4 linked regions of the Homo sapiens genome follow. The protein of the gene in region 1 purifies or fractionates together with the protein of each later gene. This does not show direct contact. Each region holds a gene or a part of one and is shown in the gene's direction. Other genes may lie near its edges.

Region 1 (2,561 bases):
AAAAAAAAAAAAAAAAAAAAAAAAAGAATCACCTGGGGAGCTTCTTAAAAAAATGAGTCAAAGCCTGGCCTTACCCCAGGGATTCTGATTTGACGGATCTGGGACGGGGCACAGGCATTAGCAATAGCCTTTAAGGTGATTCTGATGTGCAGCCAGGTTGAGAATCGCTGCTATAATATGTTGAGCTCAGGAAGCGAGTCCCTTTTTGGAATGTGTAGTGTTCACTGGGTTTTGAGTATTGCCCATTTTATGTCAGTTAATCATCTGTATCATACCCAAGTTCTTTTTTTTCTTTTTTAGAATTTTATTTATTTTATTTATTTTATTTTTTGAGACAGTGCCTTGCTCTGTTGGGCTGGAGTGTCTGTCGCCAGGCTGGAGTACAGTGGCATGATCTTGGCTCACTGCGACCTCCACTTCCTGGGTTCAAGCGATTCTCCTGCCTCAGCCTCCTGAGTAGCTGGGACTACAGGCATGTGCCACACCACGACAGGCTAATTTTTGTATTTTTATTAGAGATGGGGTTTCACCATGTTGGCCAGGATGGTCTCGATCTCTTGACCTCATGATCTGCCCACCTCGGCCTCCCAAAGTGCTGGGATTACAGGTGTGAGCCACTGCATCCAGCCTATACCCAAGTTCTTTTGCATTAGTTCCTTGTGTGATTAATACAGCAGCCTTAGCACATTTTTTTTTTTTTTTTTGGCTTGGTCTTTTTCATTTATGAAAAACTATGATATGTCTAATCATATCATTCAAACCTAGTTATGTGCTTGCTGAAAAGTGAAGAGTAACTTCATTTTTAGGAGTAAAAACAAAGCAAGCTTGCAGCTCCAAGCTTCCCTTTCTTTTTTTTTTGAGACGGTGTCTTGCTCTGTCACCAGGCTGGAGTGCAGTGGCGCGATCTCCGCTCACTGCAGCCTCCGCCTCCTGGTTCAAGCGATTCTCCTGCCTCAGTCTCCCGAGTAGCTGGGACTACAGGTGCGCACCATGATGCCCAGCTAATTTTTGTATTTTTAGTAGAGACGGGTTTCATAATGTTGGCCAGGATGGTTTCAATCTCTTGACCTCGTGATCCACCCACCTCGGCCTCCCAAAGTGCTGGGATTACAGGCATAAGCCACCGCTCCCAGCCCAAGCTTCCCTTAGTTGAGCAAGTTCTGTTAATTTTGTTTTGCCAGGCTGCACTTTGCCCATACATACGGCAAGGGATGTTTAAACGTTTATCTTTGAGCATGTACGTTTTACTATTTTTCTTTAGATTGGGATGCTTGGAAGGTGTGTCTACGACTTCGAGATAATGGACTTCTGGCCAAGCCAACCCATGGCGACATTATCAGGTTTGCGCCTCCGCTGGTGATCAAGGAGGATGAGCTTCGAGAGTCCATTGAAATTATTAACAAGACCATCTTGTCTTTCTGAGGGTAGCCAGCTGTTTTCAGTGGTCCCTGGGAGCCAGCTGGAGACAGGTGGTCCTGTAAAAGCTTTATTCCTAATGTGGGCACATTCCACTCCCATGAGTCTTCAAAAACTTTTTTTTTGAATATATTTTTTTCAGTTGATACATAATAGAACAACGTTTATGAACCTGCCGTTTGCTTTGTAACGTAACTAAATAATGTAATGGCATCTATATTCAGTTGAAGTGTTTTGATGTGCATGTGTACTTCCTAAGGTGAAATGCATCTATATACAGACAGCCTCTAAATCAAGTCCTTCAGTATAATTGATATATGTTTTTATAATTTCCTCACTGGTATAAGTGTTTCATATTTGAAAAAGTTATCTCTGGGTATTGCATAAAAGGCTTCATCTTATAAAGTGAAATCATTGTTATTGAATTTTAGGAAGGATTAATGGTTAAGTGTATATAAAATACTAATATTAAGTAAACTTCATATTGGCCAACACCAGGGTTGTATTCTATGGATGTCATTATTTTGAATTAAGAATTAGTGTTTAACATTCCTAAATTGTTTTGAGTGCTTGATTATAATTTGTAAAAAATGTTTATTTTCAATACTTCTTTAAATTTAAAATAAAGCTTATATTTCAAATGTCTGTTTTGTGATGATTATTCACCTTAAAAGGAAGAAGCTGAGGCAAAATTAATATAGAATGTTTAGGTGGGCCAAGGTTGGGGACTGCAGCTCGGGACACACTTCCAGGTTGCCCTGGAGAGTGCTCCAGAGAACACTTCTTAAAGAAAAAAGGATAGATCAGCTGCTCTTATACCCTCTACTGACACAAGGTGAAGGGGTGATTACAAAAGTTGTTTATCAGGAATTCTCATTGGCTTACAGAACTAACCTTGGTTAGTGATTGGCTATATGCTGTTGAACTACAGGGTATATGGCATTTGATAGATACTTGGCTTCAAGAGGTAATTATGTAGCTTGGGAGAGAGTGACCTGACTATGATTTCATTCTATTGCCTCTCTGGGCCTGATAATTTAGTTTTTATTTTTTGAGATGGAGTCTCTCTCTGTCGCCCAGGCTGCAGTGCAGTGGCACGATCTCAGCTCACTGCAACCTCCACCTCCTGGGCTCACATGATTCTC
Region 2 (3,500 bases), on another chromosome or scaffold:
CTAATTTTTTATATTTTTAGTAGAGACGGGGTTTCATTGTGTTAGCCAGGGTGGTCTCGATCTCCTGATCTTGTGATCCGCCTGCCTCGGCCTCCCAAAGTGCTGGGATGACAGGCGTAAGCCATATTTATCTTTTTTAATGACAACCATGCCACCTATTCCCATGATGCTGGGTCCCATAAAATGGAATGTAAAAGTTCCCTCTAAAACATCCACCTGACTTAGCATCTTGTCCATAAAACTGGGGAAAGGCACACACAGAAGGAACCAAATTCTGGGAATGCATCATGGCTCAGCCAAAAATATTGCTGGGGTCTTGTCTGGGCACAGATCTTACTCTGCACACTTGATTTCCCTGTGCCCCTTGGGGTGCAAAACTGGGGTCCTTTAGCTGTGCTAGAGGCTAGAATGAGAATTTCTTGGTGTGAGCCCATTTAAAATAATCATTTATTTTACAATTTAAGCAGCTTTTTAACAGCGTATAAAAAAATGTATGAAAGTAATTTGTGCTCAATGGAGAAAACCTGGGTAATATAGAGAAGCACGAAGGGGGAAATATGCCTTTCATTCAGAAAGAACATTTTGACATGTTACTGAGTTTCACCAATTTAAGTTTCATTTCTGTTCTTCCTTGATCCAGCCCACAGAATCTGATTGCCCAGTCTCAGTCTGGCACTGGTAAAACAGCTGCCTTTGTCTTAGCCATGCTCAGCCGAGTGGAGCCATCAGACAGATACCCCCAGGTGAGGGCTTGCGGGGCTGGGTGTCCTAGGTTGCCTGCCCTGGGGAGCGCAGTGCCATCTGGTGAGGAGTAACGAGAGGTCTGAAGCTTCTGACACCTTAGGCTGTGGCTCAGGCAGAGCAAGTTCCTACACCAGGCCCTGACCTGGGAGAATGTGCTTGAAAGCAGCAGCCTTAGACCATGGCTTGCAAAGGCCTCTGCCAAGCCAGGGCTACCTGCTGCAGGCTTCAGTCTATGGCTGAAAGGTGGGCCTGGATGGGAGGACATGCTTCCCTGTGCTATTCAAGTGCTAATAACATCAGCATACTGGGTGCCTTCAGGTCTGTTACCAAATGGCTCTCCTAAACTCATCCTTTATGATTTTTCTGTCAGTGTCTGTGCCTCTCCCCAACATATGAGCTGGCGCTTCAAACAGGAAAAGTGATTGAGCAGATGGGCAAATTTTACCCAGAACTGAAGCTTGCCTATGCCGTTCGAGGCAATAAATGTGAGTACGGCAGGCGACAACTGAACAGTGAGCAGGGTAGGGGGTTGGGCGTTTGAATTTTGAAGATGCGATGACCGTATTCAACTTTCTAATTCAGTCTGACCCTGGAGCCTAACTGTGTTGCTCTATTTGAATCTATTTGAATACCTGCTAATTTGTTAACAGTCTTTTTCAGTCTTAAAATAAGATTTTCGGTTGATTAAAAAAAAAAATCCACGCATGGCTCACAGAGTTCTTAATATCTAGAGTTCTTCGCTCAGAAGGTAGAGTTTTGAATTTAGCGTCCAGAGTTCTGGGACCTGCTACCAAAGAGGGATTAACAGGACTGAGGATGGAAGGTTGGGGTCAGCTCCCTTTCTTTAAAAGTAAGCAAAACCAGGTACAGTGGCTCACACCTGCAATCCCAGCCCTTTGGGAGGCCAGGGTGGGAGGACTGCTTGAGCACATGGTTCGAGACCAGCCTGGGCAACATAGTAAGACAAAAAATAAAAAAAAAAAAATAGCCAAGCGTGGAAGTGCCAGCTTGTAGTCCCAGCTACTTGGGAGGCTGAGGCAGGAGGATCGCTTGAACCTGTGTGGTCAAAGCTGCAGTGAGCCATGACTGTGTCACCGCACTCTAGTCTGGGCAACAGAGTGAGACCCTGTCTCAAAATAAATAAATAAATAAACATAAAAAGAGTTGGATGATGTTGGATTATAGGAGGAAGAAGAAGGGAACTGATGCTTATTGAAGGATTGCTGTGTGGGATTTGATCCTGACCACAGTGCACTGAGATAGGTGTCATTCTGCCCACTTCACAGCAGAAGAGACCAAGACTGAGGGGAACACTCATGTGTGTTTTGAAATCTGGAAATAACTTGTTCTCCTAGTCCTAGAAGGATGGGCAGGGCTTTGATTTCCAGAGCTGGCTTTGCCTTTGAAATACCTATGAAAATCACCTGGGTCTCCACAGTGGAAAGAGGCCAGAAGATCAGTGAGCAGATTGTCATTGGCACCCCTGGGACCGTGCTGGACTGGTGCTCCAAGCTCAAGTTCATTGATCCCAAGAAAATCAAGGTGTTTGTTCTGGATGAGGCTGATGTCATGATAGCCACTCAGGGCCACCAAGATCAGAGCATCCGCATCCAGAGGTAGGGATCTCGAGGGTGGGGGACTCCTCAGACTCCCCATCTGCAGTGTCTTCTCCCTTCACTTCAGACGCCTCCTCTGGCTTCTGCCTGGGTCTTGGCTCTCGTACTCTCAGCAGCATTTGTTTGACGGGCCATTTCCATGTCAGCGCTGATCACAGTCCCTCCCAACCTGGGTTGAGAAAGGAGACCTAGGGACTCTTCCCCAACCCTTGTCCCCATCCCAGGCCTGCTGCTCCTCCTCCCCAAGATGCTCCTCCCCCATCAGCCTTCCTGGGCATCTAGACCCTCCCAGCTGGGGAGGCTGTGCTTCCGTTGCTTCCCAGGGCCACCTGGGGCCATCTACCCGGGCCTTCCCTTGCAGGATGCTGCCCAGGAACTGCCAGATGCTGCTTTTCTCCGCCACCTTTGAAGACTCTGTGTGGAAGTTTGCCCAGAAAGTGGTCCCAGACCCAAATGTTATCAAACTGAAGCGTGAGGAAGAGACCCTGGATACCATCAAGCAGTACTATGTCCTGTGCAGCAGCAGAGACGAGAAGTTCCAGGCCTTGTGTAACCTCTACGGGGCCATCACCATTGCTCAAGCCATGATCTTCTGCCATGTGAGTAGCAGCGGCAGTGGCAGGCCTGGCCCCTCCCTCTCAGCCAGCTCCCCACAGGGCTCAGGAGGACTGGATGCCCCTGAGCGCCATGGAAAGAAGGGAAGTGCTTTTTGAAGATGTAAGAGACAGGCTCTCCTTTAGTGGGGGTAATGGTAGTATCCCAAGGGATACATAGCCTAAAGATAGAGCCCCTGAACTTTATGTCTTATTTGTGGATGATGTATTGTTGCACAACCCAAGAGAATCAACTCATATTTGTAAGAAAAATAAAAAATTCAACAAGATGGCCGGGTACGGTGGCTCATGCCTGTAATCCCAGCATTTTGGGAGGCCGAGATGGGTGGATCACGAGGTCAGGAGATCGAGACCATCCTGACTAACACGGTGAAACCCCATCTCTACTAAAAGTACAAAAAATTAGCGCGGCGTGGTGGCGGGCGCTTGTAATCCCAGCTACTCGGGAGGCTGAGGCAGGAGAATGGTGTGAACCCGGGAGGCAGAGCTTGCAGTGAGCCGAGATCACACCACGGCACTCCAGCCT
Region 3 (2,261 bases), on another chromosome or scaffold:
ATCCCTGGCGTCTCAGGAGCAAAAACACTCAGTACCTGCGGGGGCTCCTCCCTAGACTTGCTGCCCATGGGACCAGACCTTCACTCTGTCACTGGAAACCTGGCCCAGCTCTCACCTGCCCGGATCAGGGCCTCTGTGCTGGGACGTGGGTGACTAGCCCTTTCCCCACCAGGAACTTTGCTGCCTTGGAAGTGCTGCGGGAGGAGGAATTTTCCCCACTGAAGAACGCAGAGCCAGCCGACAGGGACAGTCCCCGCACCGCTCGCCAGGCCCTGCTCACCCAGCACTACCGGTGGGCTCTGCGGGCCGGGGCCCGCTTCCTGGATGCCCATGGGGCCTGGCTCCCAGAGCTGCCCAGGTGAGTGTGGCCCTGGGGTAGCTACAGCCAGAAGGGGAGGGCTGTCAGGACCCAATCTTCAGCTCCAGAGCCCTGTTGGCTCTGCGACAGCCATGCTGGGGAGGGGTCTTCCTTCCCGGCACCACCGCAGGTGCAGGTAGCCTTGTGCCCAGCCAGCTCCAGGTCACACGGTGACTGTCGGCACAGCCTCCTGGCCCGACCCTTCAAGTTGTGCTCAGTGCACTGAGGGAGGCAGGGGCTCCCCAACTCCCTCCCCAACTTATCCACAAGGTTTTGGTTTGTTTACAAAGGCATACTTAGATTTGGCTTTTATTTATTTATTTTTATTTTTATTTACTTTTTTGAGATGGAGTCTCGCTCTGTCGCCCAGGCTGTAGTGCAGTGGTGGGATCTCGGCTCGCTGCAAGCTCCACCCTCCCCCGGTTTCCGCCATTCTCCTGCCTCAGCCTCCTGAGTAGCTGGGACTACAGGCGCCCGCCACCACGCCCGGCTCATTTTTTTGTATTTTTTTTTTTTTTTAGTAGAGACAGGGTTTCACCGTGTTAGCCAGGATGGTCTCAAACTCCTGACCTGTGATCTGCCCGCCTCGGCCTCGCAAAGTGCTGGGATTACAGGCGTGAGCCACCTCACCCGGCTATTTTTTTATTTTTATTTTTCTTATTTGTATACATTTGTGGGGTGTGTGTGCAACTTTGGTCAGTCAGGTCAGGGCTTTTAGGGGATCCATCACCCAACCAACGTTGTTCCCATTTATTCACAGGCTTTGAAACTGAGCCCCGGGCATGAATTTAGAAAGTAGCAGGACAGTTTGATTTCAGGGCTGGGAAAGAAAAGGACGTTTGGCTTCCATCTCCCTGATTTTCTAGGGCCACCCCTAAATCTAGCTGCCTAGGCTCTGCGTGGGAGGCCTGTGGGGGTGCTTTCTACCCCAAATCAGGTCCTGTCACTTGGCAGTGGGATGTGTGCTCAGGGTTTGGGGTGTCCAGAGGAAGATGAGCTTGCTGAGACAGGAGCTGTGGGGAGCCAGGTGTGTAGAGCTCAGTCTCCTATCGGGACTGGGGGTGCTGGGGGAGGGCTCTGGGCAGGTGCTGCAAGGAGATATTGACAAGTGGACTTTCCCTAGCTTGCCCCCAAATGGAGACCCTCCGGCCATCTGTGAGATATCGCCCTTGGTGTCTTACTCTGGAGAGGTGAGAGCTGCCCATCCCTATCTGGGGCTTTTCTGGTGTCAGGTTTGGAATACCATCTGGGGAGAGGTGGCTGCTCGGGTGGAGACGGCACAGCTCTACCTCGGTTAACCAATGGGGTCGGTGGTTTAAATTTGCAGAAGACTTTCCAAGATATGGGTTGGGGTGGGGTGAGGCATCCAGAGGCCTTTGCAGGTCCTGGGAGGGCATGGGGATGAGACAGCCCAGGTCTGAGCCCAGTGTGGGGCCAGTCAGGCCTTGGTGGGGGCCTTGCGGAGGGAGGACACCGGCCTCTGCTACCTCCCTGACCTCGGCTGCCCTTGCCCCTTTCTCTGGTCAGGTCAGACCTGTGCGTGACAGGAGGGTCCCCTGCTGGCCTAGGGTCTTGAGTGTGGTCTTGGGTGGCCTTGCAGTGTGTGTCTGCTCCTGGCCCTGGAAGCCTTTCTGTCCCCACCCCTCCCTGACTCCAGGCAGACCTGGGATCGCACCTGGGGACTGTGGCTCTTGGTGTGGCCAGAGGGGCTGTGACCCGCCAAAAGGTGGGTACTTGGCCATTGTCCCCTGCTCGTCTCCAGGGTTTAGAAGTGTACCTGCAAGGCCGGGAGTTCCAGTCCCCGCTCATCCTGGATGAAGACCAGGCCAGGGAGCCGCAGCTGCAGGAGTCCTGACCCGCCCAGACTGTCCCCAGACTCCCCCGAGACCTGCCAGCCCCGGCA
Region 4 (3,118 bases), on another chromosome or scaffold:
CAACACACAGATTCCAAGATGGCTACAAAATGGAAAGAGCATGGCAGATCACACATGGGATGATTTGTATGGGCCAACCTTAGACATCTCTTACCTGGCTTCTACTCACATCCATTGATTAGGATTCGCTCTCATGGTCACACACAGCTAGAAAGAGGCCGGGGAATAGGGTACATGTGATGCCCAGGAAGAAGAGGAAATGGAGCTTACAGTCAGTGAGCTGTCTGCCTGTGTGGCCATCAAGAACAGCAGCTGTTCCGACCACCCCATCTTGACACGCTTATTTAATACTTTTATTTCTTCATTTTATACATTACATTTTTTACCTCCTTTCAGTTCTTTGAATGCAGCAATTTTCTTCCCATCTCAGGGCCTTTACTCTGTGTATCTTTGCCCTCAAATACTGCTCCCTGCTTTTTGCCTGATGTAATTTATCTTTCAGGCCCCAGCTTAAAAGTAACTTTCAGACTTATTAACTTAAAAATTACTTTTCTAGTTAGATTAAACATTTGTTTGTATTTATTACCATTTATCTTTCTTTAGGAAGCTGTCCTTTCTACATTAAAGCTGAAATTTGAGTGTTCTCAGTTTTCGTGTATTCCTGATGTTTTGAGAAGAGATAGCATTTGCCATATTGATTCTGAACATTTTTTCAGTTTCTATGTGTTTAGTTTTGTTCATTGTATGACATACGCAATTTTTATATAAATTAGTATTTTTTCTTGTGATTTCTTTAACTGCTTTTAAACTTAAAACATCCTTCCCTACTCTGAGATTAGGCTTAACTATATTATCTTTGAGTTTTTCTTTAGTGGTACATTACTTATCTTCCACAAACTCTCTTAGGTATTAATGCTCCCTGGAAATGCTTTCTACGTCGATAGCTCAGCTCCTAGCCCTTACTTGAGAGCATCCTTCTCTTCAGCTTCTCCAGAACAGATGGATGTGGTGAGTGTAGTATTCTCCTCAGAGTAACACTAGCTAGCAGTTCTGTTTTTTTAATGCACGTGTATACTTTGTGAATTAGAATATTACTTAATATCTGTTTGGGTTTCTAAAATTCAGATATTTGTTGACCAGTCATGAACTATCATTAAAAGACCCATTTTACTTTGTTGCTAGACTTCTATAGAAATGAGACTAAATTGGAGTTAAAATTTATTGTCTGCATGAATAATGTATCACAACCTACTGAGCTGCGTAAATTGTCATGTTATGAGGAAAACTTCTTTCCTTCCTTTATTGAATTAACATGAGCCAGAAGTACAAATTCATGATGGCTGTCACTTTCTCTGAAGAAAAAAGTATCAGCAAGGGTCAAATAGAATAATATTCTGAATCACAATCTAGCTTTAACCAAAATAAGCTGTGTATGTGGAAATCAAACAGAAGAGCTATAAATTGAACAGTGCCATTAACCTTGAGAAGAGTTTATATTTATCCTTGGAAAGGGACATTTTTGGCATGTTCTTTATTTACTTGCTTTCTCATGTCATTAAATGTGTTTTTCATAAGGTCTCTCTGTTTTAATGTATTAGTGGAGTTGGGCAATTGAATCTATATAAAATGCAGGTGAGAGATTATGTAAAATCTAAAATAATCCATGTTATGGATAAAATGGAAAATGATCTTGAAGGCCACGAGAACAACAACAACAACAAAATCCTGAAAATCTGATGTACTTCAGTCTTCATATTTTAATAGAAATTGATGGCATCCTGCACAGATAAAGTTGATGTTAAACTTGACTTTTCAATGCCTTCTCTCAACCTTAGACAGATACTCTTTGTTTGGATTTTTAAAGTTATTACAGAGTTTTCCAATATAGTATCCTAATTTAATTAATTCTAATTTTTTTTTTCTGTTTTAGGCCTTCCAGGTATTAGCACAACTTATAAAAGAATCTTTATGAAGAAATTAAACTAGGTTGGGCATGGTGGCTCACACCTATAATCCCAGCACTTTGGGAGGCAGAGGAGGGAGGATCACTTGAACCCAGGAATTCAAGGCTGCAGTAAGCTACGATCACACCACTGCACTCTGGCCTGCATGCACTCTGGCCTGCATGGCAGAACAAGACCCTGTCTCTAAAAAAAGAGAAAGAAATCAAACTAATCATGCTGCTCATGGATTTTTCCAATAAATTTCTTGTTTTGGCAGGAAGAAATGAACACTGGTATTAGACTTAAAGATTAAATTTCCTCAAACATGTCCTATCTGTAGTAGTTCAACTAGACACCTTTTAAAGTGCCTCTAAATTCATCAGATGGCCAAACTGTATTTATAATCCACTTAGGCATTTTGAAAAACTTTCAACCTGTAAAAAGTTACTTTTATCTTGGATTTATTATGAAGAACTTTGTAGTTGCTTTGTAATTTCCCATAAATTGTCTTTGAAACTAACATTTTACACTGAATTATTTTGAGATTTTAAAGAAGTAATTAAGTGCAAAATGGTATATAATGTGTACTTTTTCTACTTTTAGGAAAATTTAATGAGAGCTTATTGCAAAAATTGTTATAATTTGGTCATTATAAGTGACTTTTAGTAAAAGTACCATAAACCTTATGTTATGCCACAGAAATTCCTTTAAAATAAAATTCTTAAACTAAACATACCTAAAGGCATCAGACCCATTAATTCTAAGTAAGGAGGGGAGATCATGGACTTAGGAAAATTTACTACATTGTATTTTCATAATACTACATAATTTACAAAAATACATTCTTATCAATTATGTAATTTAAATCTACTACAACCCTTTAAGGTATTAGGAAATATTTTTTAACTATTTTTTTCTCACCTTTTAAAATCTTTATTAAAGTAAGATATGCTCATTTTAGAATTTTCAAACAATCCAGAATGTATAAGGAATAAAGTAAAAGCCACTCACTGTCTCACCCCTGGTGATAACTGCTATAAGCATTTAGCATGCTTCCTTTGCAATGTTCTCTGCATACACATGTAATATCTAGAATAGGATCTCATTGTGACAGTGTATCATAAATACCCTGTATTCATTTTCTATTCATTTTCTGTTTAACAAATTGACGAAGTGTCCTATGACCCAATAATTGTAAAGTTGTAAGTATCTTTGCGGAATTAGGAAGTTTATGT

Evidence for each region.
Region 2: the proteins of OAT (region 1) and DDX19A fractionate together in Homo sapiens (co-fractionation; one large-scale study listed by BioGRID). This does not show direct contact.
Region 3: the proteins of OAT (region 1) and UAP1L1 fractionate together in Homo sapiens (co-fractionation; one large-scale study listed by BioGRID). This does not show direct contact.
Region 4: the proteins of OAT (region 1) and AADAT fractionate together in Homo sapiens (co-fractionation; one large-scale study listed by BioGRID). This does not show direct contact.

The regions. Positions count from the first base shown.
Region 1 is NC_000010.11:124,396,803-124,399,363, reverse strand, and holds the end of OAT (ornithine aminotransferase, mitochondrial isoform 1 precursor), read left to right. Parts: intron 1-1,261; coding exon 1,262-1,422; 3' UTR 1,423-2,061; downstream 2,062-2,561. UniProt on the Homo sapiens protein: Catalyzes the reversible interconversion of L-ornithine and 2-oxoglutarate to L-glutamate semialdehyde and L-glutamate.
Region 2 is NC_000016.10:70,363,903-70,367,402, forward strand, and holds part of DDX19A (ATP-dependent RNA helicase DDX19A), read left to right. Parts: intron 1-640; coding exon 641-743; intron 744-1,114; coding exon 1,115-1,229; intron 1,230-2,030; exon of another isoform or gene 2,031-2,109; coding exon of another isoform or gene 2,110-2,182; coding exon 2,183-2,360; intron 2,361-2,721; coding exon 2,722-2,959; intron 2,960-3,500. UniProt on the Homo sapiens protein: ATP-dependent RNA helicase involved in mRNA export from the nucleus.
Region 3 is NC_000009.12:137,080,517-137,082,777, forward strand, and holds part of UAP1L1 (UDP-N-acetylhexosamine pyrophosphorylase-like protein 1), read left to right. Parts: intron 1-172; coding exon 173-358; intron 359-1,481; coding exon 1,482-1,548; coding exon of another isoform or gene 1,549-1,656; exon of another isoform or gene 1,657-2,114; intron 2,115-2,120; coding exon 2,121-2,213; 3' UTR 2,214-2,261.
Region 4 is NC_000004.12:170,059,722-170,062,839, reverse strand, and holds the end of AADAT (kynurenine/alpha-aminoadipate aminotransferase, mitochondrial), read left to right. Parts: exon of another isoform or gene 1-110; intron 111-846; coding exon 847-948; intron 949-1,870; coding exon 1,871-1,912; 3' UTR 1,913-2,618; downstream 2,619-3,118. UniProt on the Homo sapiens protein: Transaminase with broad substrate specificity. Has transaminase activity towards aminoadipate, kynurenine, methionine and glutamate. Shows activity also towards tryptophan, aspartate and hydroxykynurenine.